Regions from separate parts of the Homo sapiens genome. Here all the other regions are linked to region 7. A link means that fine-mapping ties the variant in region 7 to the plasma level of a protein whose gene starts in the linked region. Region 7 holds a variant in brackets. A gene starts in each other region. All regions are shown on their forward strands. Distances are between the middles of the regions.

Region 1 (4,164 bases), not on the chromosome of region 7:
TGGAGGAAAACACCATGCATAGGATAGAAACTGAACATTTGGAGGAAGCAACAAAGATGGAGCTTGCTAAAAGGGACAAGTTGGAGAGAATGGAGTAATTATGGATACATGGAGAAGCAAAGAAGATGGAAATTAGATAAAGAAAAAAATGCAGAAAGGGACCAAGAGAAACGGAAGAAGGGTACCCAAGGCAAGGCAACAGGAAACAGTGAGAGATGAGCAAACCCAGGCAGCTCCCGCCATCCTGCCTCTTTTACTCCCCCATCATCTCCAATCATCCACCCGTATAATCCCACCTGGGATGGTGCAAATCAGTTGTTCCACAACTACACAGGGTTTGGAGCAGTCATGGTCATTTTAGGCACAGAGTCACCCACTTGCACAGAGCATCTTCCACCCTGCTTTCCTCACCCAGTATTCTCCGAAGTCGGTTTTTGTTCTTTGTGGCAAGCTCCTGAAAAGAATTATTGGTCTCTTTGGCCCTTCCACAGGCAAAGCTGAAGAAGTCGGTGCAGGGGGCCACACTTGTGTTCCCAGAGGCCAGGTAATGATCCCGGAGATCCAAACACACAGATGTCTCACAGGGGCCTGTGGGGAAAAGCTCAGAGCTGGGAAAGAAGAGGCAAAAAGACAAGGGCTCCCCCAAGGGGCTAGGCAAAGAACATCAGGTGAGTAACTAAGTGGGGAGCTGATGAAAAAGAAATGGTTAGGATGCAGGGAGGAAGAAGAACCATGGGGACCCCAAGGGTCAGGGTGGGCAGAAGCCCCAGGAGCAGGGACTGGGCCTGGGCCCCAGGGCTGGGGGAGGGCTGACTAGGTTAGGGGGTCTGGGATCTTGCTTACGAGGGCCACAGTTCTGGAAGTTGTAGAACAAAAGCACAGAAAAACAAAGGAGCAGGCCCAAAATCAGGATAGCTGTCAGCACCCGCCTGGCCACTGCCCATGGCCTGCTCCCTTCCACGGGCAGCCTCTCTTCTGGAGTGCTCTGTGGGAGGAACCAAGAGGTGAAAGATACAAGATGGGGGTTGAGAGACAGGGATGGGAAGAAGAGGAGAGAGAATGAATCTGTTGGTGCTACAGTCCCTTTATACAGAAATAATTATCCCAATTCTTCCTAAACCCAGCCCTACTTTAACTCCTGGGAGATGAGAAAACAAGGAATGTCAACTGTTTTGGGTGAGGATGAAGCAGACAGTTAGTAGATGAGTGTTTGTGGGATTTTAGAGCCGAGAGTGACAACATCAGTGTATTCCAGACCCAGGAGAGGAGGCCACTTACCTCTTGGCTCCAGAGAGTTCCCATTCCACCTGCCTGGCTGCGTTCCCTCGGCTCTTCCTCACTTTGGTCCCCACCTTCCTGAAGTGAGTGGAGGGAGAAGGAGGAGAGAGAAGCTGGTTCAGGAAATGGTGCATTGAAGAGAGTTTTATCAGGCCATTTTGATACCCTCGCTGCCTGCCCTGCCCCCACACACATATTTTTATCTCGGAGCAGTGTTCCCAGATGGGCTTCAGAACGAACCTGTCCCCTGAATGTGCCATTTCTCGATCCCTCTCCCATTACCTCCCTCTCTCCCCACCTTTCTACTCTGTAAGCCTTACATTCCCTCCCCTCCAGTGGGGGCAGGACTTTTGCACACAGCCACCCTCACCCCTCCCCGCTAAGCCTCTGACTCCAAAAGGGGACTTACCATCTGTCTATCTTCTGTGGCTCCAGAATCCTTCCTGGTTCCACTCTAGGAGCTGATTCGGAGGACTGGGGTCCAGGAAACACCCCCCGCCCCAGTTCCTTGATCCTGGAGAAGGGGCACTTCTGCTGCTCTTTCGCCTTGTCCCCAGACACACAGGACTGGCCTCTGGGTGGAGCCTGCTTATCAGTGGGGGGCACCCAGGCTTCTCCTCCCCCTTTATCTCAGCTTCTCAGGGGAGAAGAGGGAGGGAGTCTTCACTCCCCAAGCAATCTTGCCCTTGGTCTGCTCCTTTTGTCTTGCACTGTGACTCTGCCCATGAAGTTCCTTTATTTCTAAAATATTCTTCCTTCTCTCATTTCTTCTGTATTAAAAAAAATATGAGGCACAGTAAAATTTTAAAGAGTTTATTTAAGTAAGAAGCAATTCATGAATTGGGGAGCACCAGACCGACAAAGGTTTAGTGTTGCGATGACAAAATGTCAGAGGCAAGCATTTATTGGGAAGTTATAGAAGCAAAATGAAACATTATTTGCTTAGTTTGCAGTTACATAATTGCATTTTTTAGGTAACTTTTTGGAAAGTCCCTAGTCACATAATCATATGTTAGTTGGCTGCTTATCATTGGCTGGGGTTAAGTTTTATTTGTTGTAAGCATTTATCAGAAATTGACCCAAGTTAAGTTTAATTTATGTTTGTAGTTTTAGCAAGAATATGGCTATTTTTAAGGTCTTTGGCTTTGTTTGCCTGGGAATTTTTCAGGCCCAGTCTCCATTTTAATTTTGTTTTCACACCTCTCTGATTGGCTTTTCTGGGATTCATCAATTCCCAGGTCAAATGCCACCTTTCCCAGGAGGCCTCCCAGCTCCATGCCCATTCACACTGTTCCCAAGCATGCTTAATTGTTTCTCTCGGTGTTTCATAGCTCTGCTGGCTGCTGGCAAAGTCATGCATTCAAAAGATCACCCAGCTAGGAGACCCTAATCTGCTAATTATTAGCTCTGTGACAATAAACAAGCCACTTAAACTCTGAGGCAGGTAAGCAAGTTTTGTCATCTGGAAAATGAGGGTAATACTTGCCTATGCCTACCTCATAGGATCTCATGCCTTCTACAAAAGAATAAGGCTTTACTGAGCCCCTCTTTCTTTCATTCTGCTTTCTGTTACACTGATAGCTTGCCTCTTCATCTCCTTAGTGATTGAAAACTATGTCATAGCATGTACAGTGTCTGGTTTTCATTCCTGCCCACCCAAGATGCTTTCTAAATGTTAATAGAAATGAATTGCATTCCAAGCCAGAAATCCTCTTTCTCACATCATATTAAGCCCTTACCTGTGGTCTGAGAGAGGCAAGCACATTTCTGGGGGAAGGTGTTTCAACTCTGTCCTTGTTTCCTCATCCCAGGAAAAAAATAATGTAATTTATTAGGTTAGTCTTGCAAATGATCCCCTGGCGATATTTCCAGATTCCATCAGCACTGTGCTAGGGCCATGGTGCACTTGCCAGGATGAGGGTGGGTGTGGAGAAGTGGAGTAAAGCCATTGTGCCCCCTGGGGCCAGCTGGTCGGGTATCATGAAAGTCATAAAGAAAAGTCAGAACTTCATACATTAGAAAAGAAAGCATTGGGAAAAATAAGGCTTTTGAGGAAAGGTGTGGCAAGATACAATAATATCTAAGAAACGCCGGTGTGGTATTGGGGATCTGGACTGATTGGATAAAAGACAAGAAACAGAGTGGTTAGTTTGGTGTTGCAGGAGTGATGAAGGGAGGGCCCGGCCCAAGGGGATGGCAGAGGGGAGGGAAGTGCGTAGAAAGAAAAATTGTATGGAATAAAGTCATGGCAATGGATTGAATGGAGGAGGGGTTTATGATAGAGCCACAGAGGAGCTCCAAGTTGCATTTCTGCATGACTAGGGGAATAGTGATGCCAGCGAACAATGGAATTTTGATTAAGGGGGGAGTAGGAATCAGAGTGAGGGGAAAAAGCTGACTCAGGATTCTAGAGGTGTTTGGTCTGTGTGGGTACACCCTGATGGTGCCTCCTCTTCAAACTTCCCTTCCACAGAAAGTCCAATACTCTCCCCATGGGCTTTTAGCTTCCTTCACACATATTCCCTTCCTCACTCCTTTTCTATCAATCAAAGCCCCTGAGCTGATGTTTCCCTAGGAAGATGATAATGGAGACCACTTAGATTTGATAAGAGAAAGTTGAAGATGGAGTGTGCTCTGTGACATTTGCCTATGGACAGCCACCACAGCCTGGACTTAGGTTCTCTCCCTGTCAGAGAAGCTGAGCCAGCCACAGGGATAGGGCAGCACAGCTGCCAGGTCCACCATTCCTACTCAGCCTCCTCCTGAAGGCCAAGCAACCTCCATCCTGGGAGCTGTCTCAGGAGCAGGACTTCTTCTTATCACCCATATCCTACTCCATGGTGAGTCATCACCAGCACAGCCATACCCAGTCACGGGAGTGCAGCA
Region 2 (3,998 bases), not on the chromosome of region 7:
GAAGCAACACCAGGCTGAAGCACCTGGCCATCGTGCCTACCCCTTCAGAGCCAGGGAAACACCTCAGATGGCCACTGGTGATATGAGAGGCAGATGCTCAATAACTAGTCCGGATGGAGAGTTCTGGAACTATGTTGAGGCTCACACTCACTGCTCCACTTCATAACCGAGACATCCGGATTTCCCTGCTTTCAAGCTTCTGACTTGTCAAGGTCACTGGGGGAAATGAATGACGTCCCTTGAACGCCCAGGCTGTACTTTGTGGATGGCCTTCTGGAAAATTTAGCTAATGCTGACTCAGAAAACACACAAATGAGGAAGGCAGATAGCACAGTGTGAACTGCTAAAGGTTCTCCCAATTCCCATATTCCCTGCTGTTCCTCCTCCCCCAGCAGCTCAGTTCTCACACCATTCACTGTTACTGCCTGTGGAGTCCATCGTTTATGTACTCCTAGAAACATCTCTGTCCCTAAAGGAGACTGAGCATAGGTTGTGCCTCTTTTCCTCCCGCAATCAGTGATTTTTCCACCCAGCTGTTCGGCCTTGTGATCTGCAGGGTATGATGCTGAAGCTCATGAAAGTAAATGTCCACTTAAATACTGAGTCTAGAACCTTCTGCCTTCCTTTGAGTCTCCTTTTACACATTTGAAATCTCTACACCACTACAGGTGATTCCTTTTTCAAAGAAACCAGGCACATATAAACATTCACATTTACATAACACAAGTAGGAGGGCAATTTACAAAATTAAACATTTTACACTTTCCCCAAGGATTTTTAACTTTACAATAGTAATCACCACAGGGGTCTTTTATGAAATAACTTTCTCTTAATAACTCCTTTCATATTCTGGTAGGCCAGAATTCAAGTCAGACTCCACCTTTGTTGTTCGATGAACATGAGGTTTATCTGTGCTGTGTACCAGCAGAGTGTATTCTATGTTTTTCCAGCCGGATTTTCAGTGGTTTTTGCTTCATGGTAATTATGGAGTTCTGGCTTGTAAGCAATGTCTTGGGCAAAGGTTTATGAGATTTTTCCAAAATGAATGTCTTTTATAGGAAAAGTATATGGATAACGAATTCTTTTTTATATAAGTGGTACTGGTCATAAAGTTAGATATTTGTGTGAAAAATATCAATAACAAAAAGAGAATCTGCTCTAAACAAATGCAGGGAACTTCTAAAAGACCAGGGTAACAGCCCTTACACATCTCCAATACCGACCTCATGATCTGGGTGAGCACAAGCCCCAGTTTCTCAGAAACATGCATGACTCTATCATCACAGCACCAGGGAGGCAGACAGGCAGAGTCCTGGCCTCTTCATGATTATTCTTAAAGCCTAACACCATGCCCGAAAGAGAGCTAGCTTTCTAGCATTTGTTCACTTATTGCAAAAAGAACGAAGGAAGACAGGAAGGGGAAGAATGAATCAGGGAAGGCAAGGCTTTGTGTCAAGGAGGAGAATGAGAGTCACAGTGATCACCAGCCATAGAATTTCTGGAATACCAATGAAGAGGCCTTAGAAAGGTCGCTGTGCCAGCTTTCTATTGCTGTCCAACAAATTACCATAGACTTAGCGGCTTAAACAGTACTCATTTATCATTTAACAGCTTCTATATGTCAGAGGTCTGAGTGGGCTCAGTTGGGTCCTCTGCCCTGGGTCTCACGAAACTGACATTAAGGTGCTGGCTGGGCTGGGCTCTTACCCAGAGGCTCTGGGGAAGAATCCACTTCGAAGCACATTTGGGTTGTTGGCAGAATTCATTTCTTTGAGGTTGTGGGAATGAGGTCCCTGTTTCCTTGCAGGGTGTCAGCCAGGGACCATTCTCTTCTCCTAGAGCCCTTCCATTTTCAAAGCAGCAATGACACACTGAGTCCTTCTCATACTTCTAGTCTCTCTTTCACTTCTACAGTTAGCCAGAGAAAGTTCTCTGCTCTTTTAAGAGACACGGTCTTGCTCTGTTGGCTGGAGCGCAGTGGCGCCATCGTGACTCACTGCAGCATCTACCTCCTGGGCTCAAGCAGAGCTCTCTACTTTTTTTTTTTTTTTTTTTTTTTTTGAGACAGAGTCTCACTCTGTTGCCCAGGCTGGAGTGCAGTGGCGTGATCTCAGCTCACTGCAAGCTCTGCCTCCTGGGTTCATGCCATTCCTTGCCTCAGCCTCCCGAGTATCTGGGACTACAGGCGCCCGCCACCACACCCAGCTAATTTTTTGTATTTTTGGTAGAGGCAGGGTTTCACTGTGTTAGCCAGGATGGTCTCGATCTCCTGACCTCATGATCCGCCCGCCTCAGCCTCCCAAATGCTGGGATTACAGGCGTGAGCCACCGCGCCCGGCGAGCTGTCTGCTTTTAAGGGCTCATGGGCCCACCTGGATAACCTCCCTATCTTAAGGTCAACTGTACCATCTAATGTAACACAACAAAGCTCCATACCCCTGGAGCTCCTATTCAAAGGCTCCAGGGATTAGGGTGGGACATCTTTGGAGGGCTATTCTAGAAATTCTGCCTTCCACAGTCACTTAACCTTGATTTGATTCTGATCTGCTTTCTGAGAGAAACTTCCACATCCACTGTTTTCTGCGGCCCTTTGCATCCCTCTGGGAGATTCATTTGCATATAATCTTGCTTGTCCACATTTGAAGTGGATATTAGGGAGTATGCCTTCCTTGGGAATAGCACAGCTTTTGCAGTCTGCTTCCTGCCGGCATAAGCTAAGATCCCAAAAGTTTTCTTAATTTTAAAAAAATTTTATTTTTAATCAATACATAATTATACACATGTACATTTTGATGTTTCCATACAAACAAGATGTAGTGATCAGATCAGGCTAATTAGCATATCCATCATCTGAAACATTTATCCTTTGTGTTGGGGGTGTTCAATATCTTCTCTTCCAGCTATTTGAAAATATGTTATTGTTATCTATAGTCATCCTATAGTGCCATAAAACACTATAACTTGTTCCTCCTAATTTTATGTCCTTTAACAAATCTGTCTTTTCCTCCTCTCTTCCCTTTCCAGCCACTAGTATCCTCTATTCTGTTTTTTACTTCCATGAGATCTTTTGTTAGCTTCCATGAATTAGAACATGTGGTGTTAACTTTCTGTTCATGGCTTATTTTACTTCACATAATGACCTCCATTTCCATCTATGTTGCTGTGAATGCCAGGATTTCATTTTTTACGGCTGAATACTATTCCGTTGTGTATGTACACCATGTTTTCTTTATCCACTCATCTGTTGCTGGACACATTTTAATACCATATCTTGGCGATTGTGAATACTGCTGCAATAAACATGAGGGTGCAGGTATCTCTCTGATATATTTTCTTTCCTCCTCAAAGCTGTTTCCTCACCTGAACAATGAAAGGGGTTTTTAGTCCTGGCTTGTGTTTCTTTGTAAATTCCCTCACAAAGTTAGATTTCTGCTTCCATGTGCCAATAATCATACCCCAAATCCTTTCCCAGTCATAATTCTCAAGAAGTATTTCCTGTTTCTCAGCACCATACCCCTCAAATTTAGTGGTGAATACACTAAGTTCATTTGAACTCACAAAGGGCCACATCCTTAATCTAGCCTTTGCCATAAGGCTGAGTCGATCTGTTCAACTGAGAAATTTTATTGGCTCCCACTCAAAGCTCTTTTTAGTCTGTCTGGGATTTAGAAGTGGTCAGGTTTTCTCACCCTTCAATCTTTCACATTTCTGAATACTCTATATTCTTTTTCATTTTTGCTCCCACATAGCCAATTATTTCTCCTGCCATACCTTGCCAAAGGCAGCCAAGAGAAGTTTCCATACCCCAACGCTGATTCTTTCCACCACTTATAAATAGGCTAACCATGAGATGCTTTCCAAGTTATCACAGGTAAGACTTTACTATCTTACCATCTTTCTAGCAGTTTTGTTTCTTGCCATGTAACTGGTAAGCTAGAACCTCATATTTTGGAATTTTGCTATTAAAGTACACAATTTCTGGTTCAAATGTATGCATT
Region 3 (4,164 bases), not on the chromosome of region 7:
ATGCCATTGCACTCCAGCCTGGGCAACAGAGCAAGACTCGGTCTCAAAAAGATAGAAAAAAGAAAGAAAGAAAGAAAGAAAGAAAGAAAGAAAGAAAGAAAGAAAGAAGGAAGGAAGGAAGGAAGGAAGGAAGGAAGGAAGGAAGGAAGGAAGGAAGGAAGGAAGGAAGGAAGAAAGAAAGGAAGGAGATGGAGTCTTGCTCTGTCGCCTAGGCTGGAGTGCAGTGGCATGATCTCAGCTCACTGCAACCTCTGCCTCCCGGGTTCAAGTGATTCTCCCACCTCAGCCTCCTGAGTAGCTGGAACTACAGGAACCCACCACCACACCCGGCTAATTTTTGTATTTTTTAGTAGAGAGGGGGCTTCACCATATTGGCGAGGCTGGTCTGAAACTCCTGATCTTGTGATCCACCCGCCTCGGCCTCCCAGAGTGCTGGGATTACAGGTGTGAGCCACCATGCCTGGCCACAAGACTCCATCTCAATAAAAAAAATAAAATTAAATTGAGACCTGGCTCAGATACTTTTCCGTTTTTGCCCCACAGGCAGGTTGTGGGTGTAAGGATAGGACAAGGCAGTGAAATCAAACCTGTGGGACTCTCTGAGATGAAGGGGGTGGCGGGTACACTGTGTGTGCATTTGTCAGACCTCATTGAACTTAAGAACCTGTGCTTTCTACTGCATGTAAGTTACATTGCAAAATAAGAAGTCCAGGCCGGGCGCCGTGACTCACACCAGTAATCCCAACACTTTGGGAGGCCAAGGCAGGTGGATCACCTGAGGTCAGGAGTTCGAGACCAGCTTGGCCAACATGGTGAAATCCCATCTCTACTAAAAATACAAAAATTAGCCAGTCATGATGGTGTATGCCTGTAATCCCAGCTTGGGAGGCTGAGACAGGAGAAACACTTGAACCCGGGAGGTGGAGGTTGCAGTGAGCCGAGATTGTGCCACTGTACTCCAGCCTGGTGACAGAGAGAGACTCTGTCTCAGGAAAAAAAAAAAAAAAACCCAAATACTCAAGCTCAGTGTGATTGCCTGGGCCAGAGAAGGATGGTCAGTGGGCCATCTCCTCCTCATCAGGGACCAGAAGCGCCACGGCCTTAGGGTCCTTCTGTGAAGAGGCCAGTATGAGGCTGTCCTTTCTCCCCTTCAATCCCCATCCTCCCCCAAGGTCCCTTTGAATAAGCAGGCAATAGAAATGTGTTTGTTGGGCCAACAAGCCAAGCACAGCAGCCCCTCACCTCTAGTCATGTTCCCTCCCAGATGGAAATTCTGCAGAACTGCTACAGCCTGGGGACCTCCTGAGACTTGGCAGCCTGTGTCTGGGAGGGCTCTGGTCCAGGAGACCCTCACTGGCCTCTTCCCAATCCCTCCTCTAGCCCTATACCTATTTCACCCCGAATTCCCCTCTCCTGAGCCCTGGGCCAGAGAGGCCAACCTCTTGTCTCTCCCCTCTGACCCCTTACACAAGCCACCCAAGGAAGAACCACCACCCCTATCAGGCCCTTCCAAATCAGATCTTGCATAGAATCATCGAATCACAGGCTGGCAGAGCTGCCAGAGCCATCAGGAGCTCTCCAGGTCCTCCCAACTCAGTGTAGGTCTGGACCAGCAGTGCCGGCATCTCACATCTCCCAGGAGTGTGTTGGATATACAGAATCTCAGGTCGCACCTGAGACCGACTGAGTCTGAATCTGCATTGTAACAAAATCCTCAGGTAACTTGTATGCACAGGAAAGTATGAAAAGCACTGCTCTGGTCTAGTCTATCACTGTCCCCCTGCCCCCAACACCTGCAATTGAATAGAAGTGGACACTGAAGCCTCAAGAGTATCAGAGGCTTGCTCAGGACACACAGTGAGTCGCTGGCAGAGCTGGGACAGATCCACAGCACCAGGTGGACCAGTTCCACCACACCCATCTCTTTTCACCCCACTACCTCTCCAAAGCAGATACCCACAAGCCTGCAGTCCAGTGTTGGGGAGACTAAAACAGCCTGAGGACACCCAGTGAGGGGCAAGGACTGAATCCTTTCACAGGGGTCTTCTCCATCACACCCCAACAAAGTCCCCCACCCCCCGTTCTGCTCTTACCATGCCAAGCTGTGGCCACCAGCAGGAGCAGCAGAACTCCTGGGCCCATGGCCTCGGTGGGGAAGTGGCAGGCAGGTGCAGGGCTGCAAGGTGCCCAGGGCACAGAGCTCTCAGCTACTAGCTCCGCAGGGATCGGGACACTGGACACACGTTCCTCTCCTCTGCACTGGCTGTTTGTCTTGTTTTCCTCTTCCTCCTCCTTGGGCTGATCCTCTTCTTCCCCTTTTAGCTAGGCAAGGCAACCACAGAGTTTGGAAATCTTGGGTCTTTAAGAAGAAAACAAAGCCTTGAACCCAAGAGGGAGGGGTCGCAGTCTGGGGCAGGGCCAGCCTGAGCTTGGGGGGAGCTAGCTAAGTTTGGGGCCCTTCTAAAGCCATCTTCAAGGGGTCTTGGGAGAAGAGACATGTCCAAGAGCAGCCAGACCGTTAGTCAGTAGCACAAATGAGGGTCTTCAGAGTGATCAGGTGGCTCTGGCAGATCCCAAAGAGAAGTTAGGTTGCATGATATTGTGACATATATATTTTTTCTTTACCCTGATGTCCTGGCTTACAACTCCTAAAATCCTTGGAATCTCCAAAGTAATGCATATCTTTTAAAAATTTATTATTATTATTTTAGAGACGCAGTTTCACTCTGTTGCCCAGGCTGGAGCTCTGTGGCTCGATCATAGCTCACTGCAGCCTCAAACTCCTGGCTCAAGCCTTCAAGCTGTGAGATCTGACGTTATCTCTAGGTAAATATAGTGTTCAAATTGAATCGGAGGGCACCAGATTCGTGTCTGCTGCAGAATCTGAACAATTGGTTGATTGCTTGGTGTATGGGGAAATATGCCCCATCCTCTACATCTGGGGTCAGAAGTATTTTGTGTTGTGAGACTATAGGAGAAACGGAGTTTGTTTTCTTCCTGTATACAGGTTGGTCTGGGAGAGCCTGATAATATTGGCAATAAGCTTCCTTTTACAGGACATTTACTAGCCAAACCTTTTACATTCACTGTCTCCTTTAGTACTGCAAAACTTTATGTAGGTAAGTACTATTGTCATTCTCATTTCACAGATGGGAAAACTAAAGCTCAGAGAGATCAAATGCCTTAAGCTTGTCCATAGTCAAACAGCTACCAAATGGTGGAGATAGGATTTGGATCCCAGCAGTCTGGTTATAAAACTATCTTTTGTGCGTTACTTACATTGTTTATTTATTTTTACAAAGAATCTAATTGTTCTGCATAATTCTTAAAATATATAGCATTCCTTTGCTCCCTCTTTTCCTGGAGGCAATTGCTTTTACCTCTTTTAGTTGATTCGCTTAGTATTTTACTTCTTATCTCTAAAGAACATGGTCATTTCTTCTTCTTTTTTTCTTTTTTTTTTTCTGAGACAGGGTTTGGTTCTGTCACCCAGGCTGGAGTGCAGTAGTGTGATCTCGGCTCACTGCAACCTCCACCTCCCGGACTCAAGCCATCCTCCTACCTCATCCTCCTGAGTAGTTGGGACTACAGGGGCATGTGCCACCATTCCTAGCAAATTTCTGTATTTTTGGTAGACATGGGGTTTCACCATGTTGTCCAGGCTGGTCTCAAACCCCTGAGCTCAAGTGATTCGCATACCTTGGCTTCCCAAAGTACTGGGATTATAGGTATGAGCCACTATACCCAGCCTAAAGTTCCTTCTTGAAATTGAAAAATCCTGATATAACATTGATCCAGGAAAATGATCATTCCCGTGTACTCAGGTGTGTGTGTGGTGTGTATGTGTGTGTTTGTATGTATATTTATGAGTGTATATATGTACTTTCTTTTTCAGAAAAGTGTTTTGAACCTTTAGCAATCATGAATGTCAATCAAAGCTGACTCAAGAAGAAAAAGAAAATCCAAATAAACCTATAACAAGAAAAGAAATTTAATCAGTAATCAAAAACCTCCCGACAAAGCAAAGCCCAGGACCAGATGGCTTCACTGGTGAATTCTCCCAAACATTTAAAGAAGAATTAATACCAATCCTTTTCAACTCATTCTATGAAGCCAGCATTTTTCTGGTACCAAAGCTAGACCAAGACATTGCCAGAAAAGATA
Region 4 (4,138 bases), not on the chromosome of region 7:
ACCTTGGCCTCTGAAACTTAGCTCCTTGTATAAAACAAAAGCAAAAACAAAACTCTTGGCAATGGGTGAGGCCTCAGAAACCTCCAGGACACTCAGACTTAGGATATAGAACCTCAGAATCCAGTCTGAAGTCCTTGAAGACATGATAACAACTTGTGCAAATGTGTTATCAGGTTTCTCTATTGCTTCCTTCCTTGATATGGGTCTCTGGCTCATTAAGATTTAAATCTTAACTTTAAAAGGCCAATAGCTCCCCTCCACTGTTTTGCTCAGACAGATCTGCAAAGTTTTAAGATGATGGTCTAACAATATTTTTCTCAACAAGCCAAATTATTTTAGAGAGTTAAGTTCCTCTTTCTTTTCTCCCTTTCTCATATATATATATATATATAATATATACTGTATAATATAATATATATTATGTAACATAAGTGTATTACGTTATACAGTATATACTATAGTATATATATATATATAGAGAGAGAGAGTTTATTTATTTAATTTTATTTTGTGCTCTTAACCAACAAACGAATATCATTTGTTCCCAGGGCTCTTTCTCTCGGGAAAACAACAAGAAAAGGAAAGGGAGGAAGAGGAGTCCACTTACCGTCCTCTGAACGACCAACACCATAATAGTGGCCACCGTGAAGACAAGGCACAGAGCCAGAGTGGCTGTGGTCAAATAGAAATAGCTGCGGCTCGTGGTCCCCAGGTGGCTGGCCACGGAGCCCGCCGGCACATGCATGGCTGTGTCTCCAGGAGGGGCCATTCCGTTGAGTGCTTGCTGCAGCCCTGGGTCCATTCTTTATATAGTCTTCCCCACATCACACCTTATCTCTCTTCATCTGATTCAGTTCTGGGCCCATCTCTGTTCCAAGAAGGATTCTCCCCCTGAATCCTGAATCATGTGACTTGGAAAAAAACCTTCACCTGCTGCCTGGTGGAGAAACTCTTCTCTGGGGGCGTGAGGCGAGAGGCGGCAGCAAGGGTGGGGGAGAGGTTCATTTTTCATTGCCAGGGATTAAGTTGTGTGCAGAGAAACTAGCTACAGAGAAGGTGGCTGATGTCAGAGGGCGCGTAGGAAAATGACGGTTCCCCGACTGTGTGTGTGTATGTGTGTGTGTGTGTGTGTGTGTGTGCATGCGTGCGCACACACAAAGCAACTTCTGTTTCGTTTAGACTCTGCCACAAAACGCCTTCCTGTTCAAGAAGCTGCACCTTCTTTCAGCGAGGCCTGTGGCTCAGAAGACCTCCCCAGATAATGAGTCCTTGCTGGGTCTCAGGGAGGCCGGATCCCTCGGACTGCAGTGTAATAACTCCAAAGGGTTCGGTTTGATAGGCTACTGCTGAAAAAGGGACATGCTGCAGGTTCCCTGGGGGAAAAAGGGCACACAAATGGAGATATTTCTCCAAAGGGGGACTGGCTCATGGCAGTATGAAATTTGGGGTTCAAAGATACTGTCAGAAAGCAGGAATCTGGAAATATCAATCTTTTGAACAAACACTCCTGCAGAAGTTTTGGGATCTGTTAAACTGGCAGATGAACCTGGACCTGCCGTAAAACTCATGAAGAGGGGAAGGAATTGGCAGTGAGATGGTGTGGTGTGGAATATGGGGGCTGTGTGTGTTCTGCGTGGTGTACTATGTAGTGTGTGTGTATTTGTGGTATGGGGGTATGTGTAGGTGTTGTGTGTTCTCTATGGTATATGTATGCAGTGTGTGTGTGGTGTGCATTTGTGATCTGCAATGCATGCCGAGTGTGGTGCGTATGTAAGTGTTGTGTGTGGTGTGTATGTATGTGTTGTGTGTGGTGTGTTGTGTCTTGTGTATGTATGTGTTGTGTGTGTATGTGACTACTATAATTGAACCTCTACTGTCTCAGGCACAGCGCTAGGAGTTACATGTGGCTTCATTCCACTTCCACCTCCACCCTCCGAGGCAGGCAATGTTTATTTTTTACAGATGGGAAAACTGAGGCTCAGGGAGGATGAAAACTATCTCAACCTAAGTCGCAAGTGTCGATCACTGAAAGAACTTGGGTGCACTTTGCAGCCTGCCTGGCTGAAAGCTCGTGCTAAGTCATTCAATCTTCACTGCACCTGAAAGCTAAAACCTGAAGTGTGGTCTCAGCCCTTTCCCTTCTTAGCCTTGGGCCATCATACAAGTCTTTATGGCTTTCTCTGTTCCCAATCTGCATTACAGTCATCAGGAAGACCAAGCGAGATGATGTCAGAGTACTCCATGAATAAAAATAGATTTGGGGATGGTGTTGGACAATTCCTGTTAAACATCCCAAGCTGTCTACTGGGCTAAGTCTGGAATTTAGATACAATAGACAGATTACCTGGGGGACAGAGTCAGATCACATCTGTGGTTACTAATGATCTCCATTTCAAAATACCGTTTAAAATGTTAATCACTGCATAGCTGCTGCCTCCAGATGTGGGCCTTTGAAAGCTCCATTTGGTATCACCGTGGAAGAAGCTCATTCTGCATAGCACCTCCTTTCCTTTCTGCTCACTTTTTGTCTGCAGCGCATCACTTTGAGCCAGCAGAGATCCCAGATGCCCCTAAGGAAACGTCCTGTGTCTAAAGCCAAGCTTGGATTATTACCACTGCTGTTCTTGCATAGAACCAAAACTTCTGAGCATCTCCCAAATTAGATCAGGCTTTAGGATTTGGTCTGGATATTTCCTCCCAGTGAGTCTGTAAAAGCATAGATCCTGGAGACGAAAGAGACATCAAGAGATAAATTGTTTTCTTGGGCTAAATAGAGTGGGGGGCGATATACCCATTTTACAATCAAGGAAACCGAGGCCCCCGTGATCCCAATTGAGTTTGGTTTTGAAAACAGTGTGTTCACGTTCGTTTGGTCCGGTAATTAAGGTGGGAACGAGGCAAGCCAGTGTTTTCTGGGGCATGTACCTGGCTGATTTGGGGAGAAGGCTGTGTCCTCTGGTGGGCACGGACAGTGAGTGGGTAGCAAGGGCTCTGTGGTCTGCCCAGAGTTGCTGAGAACCAGCTGCTCCCTTGGCCCTCTTGTTCAGCCTCTTTGATCAAAGTGGAAAACTTCTGATTGTTGAATGGAAGCTGTGGGTGTTGAAAAATAAAAAGGCTTTGCTTGAAGTTCGGGTCTTCCTGAAGGCCTGTGGGGCTGAGAAGGGCAGTGGAAAAAAATGTTTGTCTTACAGTTACCCGTTTTGCATACAATACAATGTCCTGGGAGGGAAGGCTGACAAGGGGGAAAAATCACCCTTTGTTTTTACTCAACTTTCTGAGCAGTTGAGATTTTCGGATCAGTTCCTAGTACAGTAGTTTGTGGGCTCAATTCATTCTTTTGCTGTGACACTCCTCTACTCACAAACCTTCAGTGGCTCCCTATTTCCCACCCCCATTGCTCTAAGCCCCTCTCTGCTTTCCAGCTGTTCTAGAATCTAGCCTGGCCAACATAGAAATCCATGACCTGTGCTAACTGGCTTCTTTCTGTCTTCTACTCAAGCTGTACGATGTGCAGATGGAAGGAGCCTTTATAGAATTTCTTGTTGAGTAAGTTTTAAATCCTTTCTGGAAGCAAAGCTGTATAAGGAATATAAAAACATAAGAAAACAGGGCTGCTTTGGCTGAAGCACAGGTGGGACAAAGAGAAGGGCTAAGCTTCACCTGCTCATTTGCCCTTTTCTGGCATGGGGTCTCTCCAAGGTGAATAAAATTTAGAAACTTCAGAAAATTTGGCTTGAATCCTTCATTCCACAAAAGGAGGAAACTGGGACACAGAAATGGGAACAACTAAAGGAAGTACATACCATCAGGGAGAGAGACAGGTGTAAGAGTCCCTTCTGCTCATTCTCTCTCCTTTTTTTTTTTTTTTTTTTTTTTTGACTGAGTCTCGCCCTGTCACCCAGGTTGGAGTGTAATGGCGCAATCTCGGCTCACTGCAACCTCTGCCTCCTAGGTTCAAGTGATTCTCCTGCCTCAGCCTCCTGAGTTGCTGGGATTACAGGCACACACCCCTAGGCCTGGCTATTTTTTTTTTTTTTTAATCTTTTGTAGAGATAGGGTTTCACCATGTTGGCCAGGCTGGTCTTGAACTCCTGACCTCGTAATCTGCCTGTCTCGGCCTCCCAAAGTGCTGGGATTA
Region 5 (4,000 bases), 57 Mb after region 7:
AGATCGCGACACTGCATTCCAGCCTGGGTGACAGAGTGAGACTCTATCTCAAAAAAAAAAAAAAAAAAAAAAAAGACACAAAGAAACATTTCAAAGAAAAGGAAACATGTCTAAACAAGTGAAAAGATTATTTAGCTCGAGTAGCCAGGGAAATTAAAATTAAAATTACAATGGGACCGATACTATTTTATATGTATTAGGTTGGCAAAAGTTAAGAAATATGACAAGACCAATTGTTGGAGAGGCCGTAGGTTAATAGGCACCCTTCTAACTGCTGATGAGAGTGTATATTGGTGCTCTCAGAGATAATTAGGCATTATCTTGTAAACGGAATATTCTTATACCCTGTAACTCACAGTTCCATTCTTAGATGTATGCCCTAGAAACGCTGTCACACTAAGAACCAGACATGTCTTTGTGTTTACTTCTCTTTTTTTTTTTTTTTTTTTTTTTTTTGAGACGGGGTCTCGTTGTGTCGCCCAGGCTGGAGTGCAGTGGCGCGATCTTGGCTTACTGCAACCTCCACCTCCCGGGTTCGAGCTATTCTCCTGCCTCAGTCTCCCGAATAGCTGAAACTACAGGCGTACGCCACCACACCCAGCTAATTTTTGTATTTTTAGTAGAGATGGGGTTTCATCTTGTTGGCCAGGACCGTCTCTATCTCTTGACCTCATGATCCTCCTGCCTTGGCCTCCCAAAGTGCTGGGATTACAGGCATGAGCCACTGCTCCCGGCCTTACTTCTCACTATCTGTGTGACCTTGAGCAAATCACTTAATCTTTCTGTGCCTCAATTTCCTCATCTGCAAAAAGGAATCAATAATAGTATCTTCCTCATAGGGTTTTTGTGCAGATTAAACAAATAAAATAAGTAAATATTTTAAAGCATTTAGAACAGTGCCTAGCACACAGTAACGCTATATAACTGTTTCATAAAATAAAAATAAATAGGCATAGCCAGGTGCAGCAGTTCAAGACTGTAGTCCCAACTAATCAGGAGGCTGAGGTGGGAAGATCACTGGATCCCAGGAGTTCGAGGTTGTAGTGTGCTATGATCATGCCTGTGAATAGCCACTGCACTCCAGCCTGGGAAATATAGTGTGACCCCATCTCAGTAAATAAATAAATAAATAAATAAATAGAGATGCATATGTAATAAAGCACTTAAAAATAAGAGAACAATAAACACAAAATTCCAGAGGGTGGCTACCTGTGGGTGGGAGGCAAGTAGCATAAAAGTGGACAAGTGGTGGCCAGGTGTGGTGGCTCACGCCTGTAATCCCAGCATTTTGGGAGGCCGAGGTGGGCGGATCATGAGGTCAAGAGATCGAGACTCTCCTGGCCAACATAGTGAAACCCTGTCGCTACCAAAAACACAAAAATTAGCTGGGCATGGTGGCATGCGCACCTGTAGTCCCAGCTACTTGGGAGGCTGAGACAAGAGAATCGCTTGAACCCAGCAGGCGAAGGTTGTGGTGAGCCAAGATTGTGCCACTGCACTCCAGCCTGGGCGACAAGAATGAAAACTCTGTCTCAAAAAAAAAAAAAAAAAAAAAAAGCAGATAAGTGGTGTTTGCAGTTTGGTGATACTCCATCCTTGTGCTGAGTGGCAGCTTCAGGTGTGTTTGGTATATTACTGTGCAGTATGATGTATATGTATGTTACATAAGCTTTTTATGCGTTACCTAGTAAATTTTACAAAAATAATAAAAGGGAAAAAGGGCCTTTCTACGTGCCTAGAAAGAAGAGGCTTCATGGGAATGTGAGCCATGGGTTAGGAAAGACCCCCTCGAACCGAGGCAGGTAGGAAGTGAGTGACTGAGATTCATTATGAACCCACCACGCCTGCCGGGGAGAACAGGGACTGTCCCTTCCCCTCTGCATCAGCTCAGATGGTCCAGATCACAGCCCACGTGGGCCCCTAAATAAGGAGGCAGCCCCACATTTCTACATCGGCCACCGAGATGGCAGAGCAGAGGAAGGAGAGAGGGGAGACAAATCAGGAAAGGAGCGCCAGGGCAAGTGCGTGAGCTCAGAGACCCAGCAGGGCAGGGCAGGAGCTTCACAGAGTGCAGAATGTCGAGCCACAGGAGCGCTGGGGATTCCCCAACCCCTGCACTTACCAGCGAGAAACTGAGACCCAGAGAGGGGAACGGACTAAAACTCAGACCTCGACACTGCCAAAATCCTTCCCATGCTGCCACGCTTCATTGGAGGGAAAGTGAGAAGCTCAACCTTACCCCTGTGGGCTCCAAGAAGGGTAGCTCTGGGATCCCGGGCAGGAAATTGGTGACAAGGTGACAAGGTGCGCGTGTCACAGCTGCCCAGTTCACGGCTTATTCAGTCTTCTCCCTCCCCCCACTCCCCACCAGAAGTGACGTGCTTCCTGTGCCCCGGTTCCCACCCTAAACTAGCCTCATTTAGCTCCACTCCCATTCCGCTTTTTTTTTTTTTAATTGTGGTAAAACGTACACAACAGAATTTACCATTTCAATTTTTTTTTTTTTTTTAGACTGAGTCTCAGTCACCCAGGCTGGAGTGCAGTGGTGTGATCTCGGCTCACTGCAACCTCTGCCTCCCGAGTTCACGTGATTCTTGTGCCTCAGCCCGCAGAGTAACCGGGACCACAGGCACCTGCCACCACGCCTGGCTAATTTTTGTATTTTTAGTAGAGACAGGGTTTCACCATGTTGGCCAGGCTGGTCTCGAACTCCTGACCTCAAGTGAACTGCCTTCCTCGGCCTCCTAAAGTGCTAGGATTACAGGCAAGAGCCACTGCGTCCAGCCAATTTTTTGTTGTGTTGTTTTTAAGACAGAGTCTTGCTTTTGTCACCTAGGCTGGAGTGCAGTGGCACAATCACAGTTCGTGGCAACCTCTGACCCCTGAGCTCAAGTGACCCTCCCTCCTCAACTTCCCAAGTGACTGGGACTACAAGTGTGCAGCCACCAGGCTTGGCTAATTTCTGTAGTTTTTGTAGAGACAGAGTGTTGCTTATGTTGCCCAGCCTGGTCTCAAACTCTTGAGCTCAAGCAATCCTCCCACCTCAGCCTCCCAAATGCTGGGAATGAGCCACCGTGCTAGGCCCATTTTAATTATGTTTAAGTGTACAGTTTGGGGCACTAAGTACATTCACATTGTTCTGCAACCATCACCACCATCCATCTCTGGAGCTCTCTCTTTCTCTTTTCTTTCTTTTTTTTTTTTTGAGATGGAGTTTCGCTCTGTTGCCCAGGCTGGAGTGCAGTGGTGTGATCTTGGCTCACTGTAACCTCTGCCTCCCAGGTTCAAACGATTCTCTTGCCTCAGTGTTTTTGTTGTTGTTGTTGTTGTTTGTTTGTTTGTTTGTTTTGTAGAGATGGAGCCTCACTCTGTCGCCCAGGCTGGAGTGCTGGAGTGCAGTGGTGTGATCTCGGCTCACTGCAACCTCCGCCTCCCGAGTTCAAGCAATTCTCCTGCCTCAGCCTCCTGAGTAGCTGGGACTACAGGTGCACGCCACCACGCCTGGTTAATTTCTTTTGTATTTTAGCAGAGATGGGGTTTCACCATGTTGCCTAGGCTGGTCTCAAACTCTTGAGCTCAGGCAATCCGCCCGCCTTGGCCTCCCAAAGTGTTGGGATTACAGGCATGAGCCACCGTGCCTGGCCTTGCCTCAGCCTCTTGAGTAGCTGGGATTACAGGCACGTGCCGACTGGCTAATTTTTGTATTTTTAGTAGAGATGGGGTTTCATCATGTCGGCCAGGCTGGTCTCGAACTCCTGACCTCAAATGATCCGCCCACCTCAGCCTCCCAAAGTGCTGGTATTACAGGCATGAACCACCACGCTTGGCCAGAACTGCCTTCCTTTTGAAGGCTGAGCAATATCCTATTGTGCGTGTGTGCCGCATTCTGTTCATGCATTCATATACTGATGGACACCTGTGTTGCTTCCACCTTTGGCTATTGTGAATAGTGCTGCTACAAACAGGGTTGTACAAATACCTGCTCAAGACTCTGCTTTCA
Region 6 (4,155 bases), not on the chromosome of region 7:
TTGAATCTTAAATATGAAAAGACTGGTTAGAGAGTCCATGACTAAAATTATAGGAGGAAAATTTTATTTAATGAAATATTAAATACAATACAAATATTGAAGCTCTGAGAAAAAATAACACTACATTAGTAGAAAAAGATATTTAATATAGCGTTTGTGATCATTATTTAGGGGAAAATTAGTTTTGGGGTCTATTTTAGACTGCATCATGTAATAATACCTTAAATAATATATTGCCATCAATATCTCTGAATAGGTTCAGTGCTTTCTTATTAAATGAAAAGTTTTTTTCAAATATGTATGCTTTTTCAAATGTTTGTGTGACAGTGAGAAATAGCACAGCTGTTACAGTAACTATTTGCTTAGAGATTGCCTATACAATTTTTTATCAGATAAATTATAGGTAGCAAGTTATAAGAATGTCAGCAGGGAATGAAATTTTCTTTATACAGTATCTTATCTCAGCCACGTAAAATCTCTTCATTGGACATGAACCTATCAATATGATACAATCTTTGCTTGTAGTGAAATTTGGGAATAAACAGATAATTGAATGCTTCCTCCACATTCTAGGAACACATACTCTCTTATCATTGATGTGTCACCCACTACAGATGTGATGAATTCATGCTGTCAAACACAGTAGTTTACTAATGTGAGAAAACTTAGCTTCATTTTGAGAAATTTTCAAGTGCTCTTTTCTAGTTGTATGAGAAAACCCAAAGGACTAAACCTATTGATTTTAGAAAATCATCCTCTGCATGAACAGATAAACTTCAAGAAAATAAATAATATAAAAAGGTTGGTTGTGGTGGCTAATGCCTGTAATCCCAGGCACTTTAGGGGACTGAGGTGGCAGATTGCTTGAGCCCAGGAGTTTAAGACCAGCTTGGGCAACACAGCGAGACCTCTGTCTCTATTTGAAAAAATACAAAAACAAAAATAATAAATAATATAAAAATTGATGAAATTTAAATTTATTTTTAGTAGTCCAAATATTTGGACTTAAACGGAAATTTAAATTCGATTTTATTATTATATTCACTATTACTTTCTGAGTATAACAAACAAAAACTCTTATAAATTATAGTTCTGTTAAAAAAATCTTGACTTTTTGCATATAAGGCATTACACAAATCTGGAGAAACATTTATAATACTAATCATAATCTGACATACAAAATTGCAGCAATGATCCCTCCTTTACAGACCCTCTTACATTGTATGACAATAGCACTATAAAAAAGTATCCAGTGTTAAGGTACACTTGAAGTCCTACTGTAGAATTTATCTATATTCCAGCAACAAAGGACTCCCTAGACCGGTTTCATTGTATTGAATATAAACATCAGATTTCACAAAGTGACCTCTGCTGTAGCTCAAAATAGCTGGCATTTACTTCCCTGTTATCATGTGTGGTATTAACAAGCATAACACAAGTATTGTTGACTGAAAATAAAATCTTGCATCTTTAGAGAAAATAGAAATTATGATGTGTTTTGAATAAACTGTACAAACTGTACATTTTAGGCTTCAAATTTTTAAAAATTTTTTAAAAAGAAGAAGCAAACAAAACTTCAATATTCCTAAAAGCAAAGATTGCCAAGTCATCTGTGGTCTTTACAACACACTGCCTATGGAGAAAAGCAAATTTGCAGAAGAGAGAAGGTCTTAAGGTATAAAAACTGCTTTAGCTATTTATGAACATGCTATTTTCCTAATGTACATTTGTTTTATTTTAGTTGAATTCCTTAACTAAATTGTCTCTAAGTTCTTCTTAACGCCAGTTTCAAAAACAACACTTATAAAATGATAGTAGTCCTACTGTTTTAAATATAAAAATAAGTGGGATGATGACCCAGGATACTTTCAAAAGGAAGACAAATGCACAAAGGTAGTGACAGTTATAATAATTATTTACTTTTTCAAAAAATTTTAGAAAACAAAAATCTATTATAGGCTTAAATTTGATAACATAAATACTGTGATAACTGGAACAATCACAACTCTGGGAAACTCAAAGACTTAAAAAAATTTACAAACTGTACATTTCAAATGTGTGAGATAGGTACAACAGTAGGTATGAATTTGAATAATAACATTTACAATGCAAACTTTAACAAAATATAGGAGTGAAAGTAAAGCTCTAAATAGCTGAAGAAGCCTAAAAGTTAAATTGCTTATTTTGCTAAGCTGTTCTTAATTTTTAAAAAATGTAGCCTTAATTGAACTCCTATCTGTTGAATATAAACAAAACAAGAAATTGATTTGACTTTTAAAACTGATAAATAGGAAGAATGGAAATGAGAACATCTGGTGAAAATAATGTTGACAGACAGCAGTTGGAATGCTGGAAAGAGACTCCTTTAAACTCAAAAGATAAAGAGGAGAATGAGGGAAAATATTAAGGTAGAAAAAAATTCTTAATAGGACTAGCCATTGGGCAAAGAGAAAAGCTAAAGGCATTTTGGAGTAACAATCTTTTCAAATACGTTCTCCCTTTTGTGTAGGAAATTTTTTTGTTAGTTTGGAATCTTACCTTTCTTCCATATTTCATAAGATGAGACAGATAACTTAAAACGAAGCAGTAAACAGTTTGCAACAATATCTTTAATTAAAAAGAAAACAATTTTCGTAAATTATTTGTAGTTTCACTCTAAGTGGTCACAATTTCATGGCCTATTAGAATATTTGCTGAAATAAATGCATTAAAGACTATTGAACCTATATGTAAACTCTAAAAGAAGAAATTCATTATCTTTTAAAAATATCTGAATTATCTTAATGAGTGCTATGACAATAATTGTTGTTCCAAGAAAACAATAACAATCTATTTATTGAAACTCATTTCTCTTAAATGTTCCTGCTTCTTTGCTGTAACAGTGTGTTATTGTTAAAAGGTTCTGACCTGCTCTTCAATTATCTGAATGCATCTACAGCCTAAAGCAAATATTTACCTTATGTCCACAATTAAAAAAAAAAAACCTAACAAACAGCTAAAACACAATTCACACAGGGCCTTACCGAAGAGAAGGAGGTATATTTTGCACTGAAAGACCCCAAGTGTGTCACCGAAGGGCTCCATGAAAGCATCCTGTCCCATGCATGCAGTGCCCTGTTCTCAGTGGTAACTTGGACCAGCAGCTGCTGGTTTATTTGCTAGGGAAATTAGCAGTGAGGTAACAGACCCTATCTTGCCTCTTGCTTCTGTGATTTGAATACAGAATGAATGTGTATACAAAGGACACAGGGAGTGGGAACACCTGTTATGTGCTTAGCAAGAATACAGGCTTATGGCTTTCAGAAGAGTTTCTTAGCAACTACCAGTAATTGTCTATATATTTCATAAATTATACTTAGTTATTAAAAAATCACATGAAGGAAAACATCCTTTTGCGTGACTTTACTGAAAAATGGCATGTTTTCATAATGAAAGAATATTGTGAGATTTCCTTAAAAACAAAAGCTGGTTTTCTATCATGCAGAACTATGCCATTATTATTTTAAAATTAAAAAAAATTATATGAAAATTGAAGTAGCTCATGTATCTGCTAAACAGTTATAAATCTTCATGAAGTCACTAACATGTAAAAATTCTACCAATGAATCAAAAGAGAGATCCAGAATATATTTAAAACGTATTTTTTCTATGCAGTGTTTCCTATTACAATGACTGATTTCATTTAATCTTTGAATTCATCTTATTTTTAAAAGCAAATCACAGGTGTGTTTCCAACTGGGACTGAGGCATGGACCATGCATAATTATAATGAAAAGTGCATGCCAGGAGATAGTATCTGAGGCCACATTTTCACAGCTGATGCATAGAGGAAGTGAACCAATGATCTAGAAAAGATCTTACCTCTACTGCAGTGTCCAGGTTACAGGTTTTCAACCTGGTCTCTCCATTGTCATGGCAGCAGATAGTCTAAGCATGTCCGCTTAATTTACTAAGTTATTAGTTAACCCCTATTTGCAAGAAGGCTCTGGTTCTAGCCTTGTTATATAAAATGTTAAGGATATATCCAAATCTGCATCAAATCATCAAATCAAGGAAAATTCCTTGCATGCATCAGTTTTAACAGTAAAGGCCCACTGAAGAAGTTCAATGATAAGAGGGGAAGGAAGACTATACCTCAAGCATAATTAAAGTAAA
Region 7 (4,164 bases):
TGTCACCCAGACTGGAGTGCAATGGCACAATCTTGGCTCACTGCAATCTCTGCTTCCTGGGTTCAAGCGATTCTCCTGTCTCAGCCTCCCAAGTGGCAAGGATTACAGGTGCCCGCCCCCAAGTCCAGCTAATTTTTGTTGTTACTGTTGTATTTTTAGTAGAGACGGGGTTTCACTGTGTTGACCAGGCTGGTCTAGAACTCTTGACCTGAAGTGATCCACCCACCTCGGCCTCCCAAAGTGCTGGGATTACAGGCATGAGCCACCATGCCCGGCCGATAATATGCATTTTTTTTTTTTTTTAGACAAAGTCTCCCTCTGTTGCCCAGGCTGGAGTGCAATGGCTCGATCTCGGCTCACTGCAACCTCCACCTCCCGAATTCAAGCGATTCTACTGCCTCAGCCTCCTGAGTAGCTGGGATTACAGGCGCACGCCACCATGCCCGGCTTATTTTGGTATTTTTAGTAGAGACAGGATTTCATCATGTTGGTCAGGCTGGTCTCGAACTCCTGACCTCATGATTCACCCGCCTCGGCCTCCCAAAGTGCTGGGATTACAGGCGTGAGCCATCGTGCCCGTCCTGATACTATGTATTCTTAATTCCAGTAAATATCTTGCAGAATGGCTATTCCAATTTATCCTCCCATCAGCAGCTTCTCCCACAACCTTGGCAGCAATTGACTTCCTCTTAATGTTTGTCAATTGGATGGGTGTAAACAGATGGCTCACTCGTGTTTGATTTCTCTAGTTAGTCACTAGTGATTGTAAACATGTCTTCATATGCACATTAGAACCCCAGGCTTCCTCATCTGTGAACTGCTTGTTTATACCTGATGCCACTTTTCCAATAGGTTTCCTGTGTATTTCTTCATCTTGGTCTCCTTCTGTGTTGAATGTCTTCCATTTGTCCTTCCAGATCCACACTCTATCCTTCTCCATGTTGTTCTGTGGCCTGGGAGGCTGAGCTGTATGACTGCATCAAATCGCTCCCTTGCCATCTGGCTTCCAGCCCTCTTCCAGGAAGAGAGGGAAGTGAGGATATTAACTCCCCGGCCCCTCCCTGTAGAGTGGCTGTGGGTTAGCTGCCCCCTGCAACTGAGTATCACAGCTCCTGTTGGGAGGCCCTCTCCCTGCGGTCCTGGAGGTGGTAACAGCTCCCCACTCTGGGATGCCTAGGTTCTTGCTCCATCTTGTGGCTTCCCTAAGCCTGTTCACACCTTTGCAGAGAGTCCCTATATTATGAAATCTTGCACTTACCCATTTTTGGGTGTGCCATCTGTTGCTTGCTGGGAGCCTACCTGATACATTGCTGTTGAACTGAAATTTATCATTTTCATGCAATTTCACAAATTTTTTTTGGCTTTTTGGAATGTGCTTCGGAGGCCTTATTTAACAAGCTCTTCAGCCGGGCGCGATGGCTCACACCTGTAATCCCAGCACTTTGGGAGGCCAAGGTGGGTGGATCATGAGGTCAGGAGATGGAGACCAGCCTGGCCAACAGGGTGAAACCCCGTCTCTACTAAAATTCGAAAAATTAGCTGGGCGTGGTGGCGCATGCCTGTATTCCCAGCTACTCAGGAGGCTAAGAAGGGGAATTGCTTGAACCTGGGAGGCAGAGGTTGCAGTGAGCCAAGATCACGCCACTGCTCTCCAGCCTGACGACAGAGCAAGACTCTGTCTCAAAAAAAAAAAAAAGAAGAAGAAGAAACCCTTCTATACTCTTAGTAGTATAGATTTTTCTTTCTTTCTTTTTTCCTACTAGTTCTGTAATTTTATGTTATATGTTTAGGTCTTCAATCTATCCAACATCCACCTTTGCCTGTGATGTTAGGTATGAATCCAGTTTTACTTATCTTCATAGAGTGAGCCAGTTTTCCCAATAATGTCTTTCTTCTACCAATTTGAGATGTTACCTTTATTGTATATTAAGTTCCCATGTAGGCACAGTTCTGTCTCTCGGCTCTTTATTCTATAACATTGGTTTATCC[G/A]TCTATTCTTGTATCATTACTGTGCTATTTTTATTACTATGGCTTTGTAATATATTTTAAAGTCTAATAAGGCTAGTTCCCCCTTCCTCCAATTTCTCCTTTTTTTCCCATATTGACTTTTATCTTGCCACATATATTTTTTTTAAAGTTGTTGCATTGCTTTTAAAAATCCAATTGAGGTCGGGCGCAGTGGCTCACTCCTCTAATCCCAGCACTTTGGGAGTTTGAGGCAGGTGGATCACTTGAGGTCAGGAGTTCAAGACCAGTCTGGCCAACACGGTGAAACCCCATCTCTACTAAAAATACAAAAATTAGCTGGACGTGGTGGCGGGCACCTGTACTCCCAGCTACTTGAGAGGCTGAGGCAGGAGAATCGCTTGAACCTGGAGGCGGAGGTTGCAGTGAGGTGAGATTACACCATTGTACTCCCACCTGGGTGACAGAGGGAGAATCCATCTCAAAAAGAAAATCAATTGAAATTTTATTTTTATTGCGTTGAATGTATATGTTAATTTGGAAAGAATTTAAGTTTCTTCTTGTATGTTCTTCATGTGTTATTGTGGTGATAGACTAATACACCTGCCGAAGCCTCTTATTAGGTCGAATTGTTTGTTTGTTTGTTGATGGTGTTGATTTTCTGTATAGGTGAGCATATTGTTTTATCTCTTCCTTTCCAATTCTTACAACTTTTAATGTCTTTTTCTGTCTTGTGCAGTTTGGCTACCATGCCCAGGATGATGCTGAACAGCAATAATAGCACTATAACGGAGGCTTCTAATTACCCCTAATACCAATTATCCCCTTCTTGCTACACCAGAGGTCCAGAAACATCTCCTATAAAGGGCCAGATAGCAAGTATTTTAGGCTTACCAGGTCATACAGTCTTTATCATAACTACTCAATTCTGCTGTTGCTGTGGTCATAAATGACATGTAAACAAACAGGCATGGCTGTGTTCCGATAAAACTTTATTTACAGGCCGGGATCCGTGGCTCATTCCTGTAACCCAGCACTTTGGAGGCGAAGGCGGGTAGATCACTTGAGCACAGGAGTTCAAGACCAGCCTGAGCAACATGGTGAAACCCCGTCTCTACAAAAAAATACAAAAATTAGCAGGGTATGGTGGCTTGCGCCTGTAATCCCAGCTACTTGGGAGGCTGAGGCAAGAGGATCACTTGAGCCTGGAAGGCAGAGGCTGCAGTGAGTCAAGATCCAGAGGCTGCAGTGAGTCAAGATCACGCCGCTGCACTCCAGCCTGGGCGACAGAGCCAGACCTTGTTGCAAAAAAAAAAAAAAAAAAAAAAAAAAAAAACTGGCCAGGTGTGGTGGCTCACACCTGTAATCCCAACACTTTGGGAGGCTGAGATGGGCAGATCACCTGAGGCCAGGAGTTCGAGAACAGTCTGGCGAACATGGTGAAACCCCGTCTGTACTAAAAAAAAAAAAAAAAGAAAAAATACAAAACATTAGCCGGGCATAGTGGTGCACGTCTGTAATCCCAGCTACTTGGGAGGCTGAGGCACGAGAACTGCTTGAACCTGAGAGGTAGAGGTTACAGTGAGCCGAGATTGTGCCATTGCACTTCAACCTGGGCAACGGAGAGAGACTCCGTCTCAGAAAAAAAAAAAAAAATAGAAAAAGAAAGCTTTATTTACAGAAGCAGGTGAGGGCCAAAGTTTACTGACTCCTTCTCTACAAAATAGAATCCTGTGTTTTTAGCAAGAATGTGGCCTCATGGAATAAAGTTCATTTCTCAGCCCCATTTGCAGCTATCTGTGGCCCTGGGACTAATTCTGATCAAAGAGATATAAAGTGAAGTGATGGAAGTGTCTGCATAGACAGAGAGAGAATGCGCCATTCTCCTTCCCTTTTCCCCTTTCTCTTGTCCGGAATGTGTCATAACAGGAGGGGCAGACATCTTGGAACATGTGATGGAAGCCACAGATTGAAACGATGGAGCAACAACGTAGAAACAGCTAGAGTCCAGAAAGATTTCATCATAAATCAGAGCTGAACTTTTGCTGAGTGTTTTTTCTGCATTGTGTAATTGTTTTCTTTTGTACACATTTAATCTATTTTTCTGTACTCTCTAAATCTATTATATTAACAGATTTTTCTTATGTTAAATCATCTTTGAATTCTTGGCATCTATACTACTTGAACATGTTACCTTTT

Which allele goes with the higher level. Positions count from the first base shown, and alleles are read on the strand shown. Strength reflects both the effect of a copy and how common the allele is.
For the plasma level of the protein whose gene starts at base 1,847 in region 1, A is the high allele of the variant in region 7 and G is the other (moderate association).
For the plasma level of the protein whose gene starts at base 164 in region 2, allele A in region 7 goes with a higher level than allele G (moderate association).
For the plasma level of the protein whose gene starts at base 2,269 in region 3, allele A in region 7 goes with a higher level than allele G (moderate association).
For the plasma level of the protein whose gene starts at base 1,090 in region 4, allele G in region 7 goes with a lower level than allele A (strong association).
For the plasma level of the protein whose gene starts at base 2,350 in region 5, allele A in region 7 goes with a higher level than allele G (strong association).
For the plasma level of the protein whose gene starts at base 3,125 in region 6, G is the low allele of the variant in region 7 and A is the other (moderate association).

Evidence for each region. PIP is the posterior inclusion probability: the model's chance that the variant is causal. The UK Biobank Pharma Proteomics Project read protein levels with antibody pairs (Olink). The fine-mapping took linkage between variants from a reference panel, not from the people measured, so its PIPs are less certain.
Region 1: it holds the start of KEL, and the variant in region 7 is fine-mapped to the plasma level of the KEL protein (UK Biobank, PIP above 0.99).
Region 2: LYVE1 starts here. The variant in region 7 is fine-mapped to the plasma level of the LYVE1 protein (UK Biobank, PIP above 0.99).
Region 3: it holds the start of CSF1R, and the variant in region 7 is fine-mapped to the plasma level of the CSF1R protein (UK Biobank, PIP above 0.99).
Region 4: TNFSF8 starts here. The variant in region 7 is fine-mapped to the plasma level of the TNFSF8 protein (UK Biobank, PIP above 0.99).
Region 5: ICAM2 starts here. The variant in region 7 is fine-mapped to the plasma level of the ICAM2 protein (UK Biobank, PIP above 0.99).
Region 6: it holds the start of HEPACAM2, and the variant in region 7 is fine-mapped to the plasma level of the HEPACAM2 protein (UK Biobank, PIP above 0.99).

The regions. Positions count from the first base shown.
Region 1 is chr7:142,960,517-142,964,680 of GRCh38, forward strand. It overlaps KEL (Kell metallo-endopeptidase (Kell blood group)), which reads right to left and starts at 1,847. Exons shown (of 19, transcript NM_000420.3): 1 at 1,688-1,847; 2 at 1,279-1,356; 3 at 844-985; 4 at 412-588. The coding sequence starts at 1,690. RefSeq lists a silencer at 1,611-1,806 and a cis regulatory region at 3,929-4,164.
Region 2 is chr11:10,568,502-10,572,499 of GRCh38, forward strand. LYVE1 (lymphatic vessel endothelial hyaluronan receptor 1) reads right to left here and starts at 164. Exons shown (of 6, transcript NM_006691.4): 1 at 1-164. The coding sequence starts at 31. All of the region lies in intron 1 of IRAG1-AS1 (IRAG1 antisense RNA 1), which reads left to right.
Region 3 is chr5:150,084,286-150,088,449 of GRCh38, forward strand. It overlaps CSF1R (colony stimulating factor 1 receptor), which reads right to left and starts at 2,269. Exons shown (of 21, transcript NM_001288705.3): 1 at 2,094-2,269. The coding sequence starts at 2,142. RefSeq lists a promoter at 2,142-2,574 and an enhancer at 2,327-2,356.
Region 4 is chr9:114,929,502-114,933,639 of GRCh38, forward strand. TNFSF8 (TNF superfamily member 8) reads right to left here and starts at 1,090. Exons shown (of 4, transcript NM_001244.4): 1 at 608-1,090. The coding sequence starts at 802. RefSeq lists an enhancer at 184-743.
Region 5 is chr17:64,018,284-64,022,283 of GRCh38, forward strand. ICAM2 (intercellular adhesion molecule 2) reads right to left here and starts at 2,350. Exons shown (of 5, transcript NM_001099789.2): 1 at 2,240-2,350. RefSeq lists enhancers at 1,970-2,089, 2,184-2,684, 2,430-2,519, 2,740-2,789.
Region 6 is chr7:93,223,345-93,227,499 of GRCh38, forward strand. It overlaps HEPACAM2 (HEPACAM family member 2), which reads right to left and starts at 3,125. Exons shown (of 10, transcript NM_001039372.4): 1 at 3,024-3,125. The coding sequence starts at 3,102.
Region 7 is chr17:7,164,104-7,168,267 of GRCh38, forward strand. No RefSeq gene overlaps it. Among named protein-coding and RNA genes, the nearest start is that of ASGR1, 13 kb to the right of the region's middle. The variant G/A (reference allele first, on the strand shown) is at 1,990.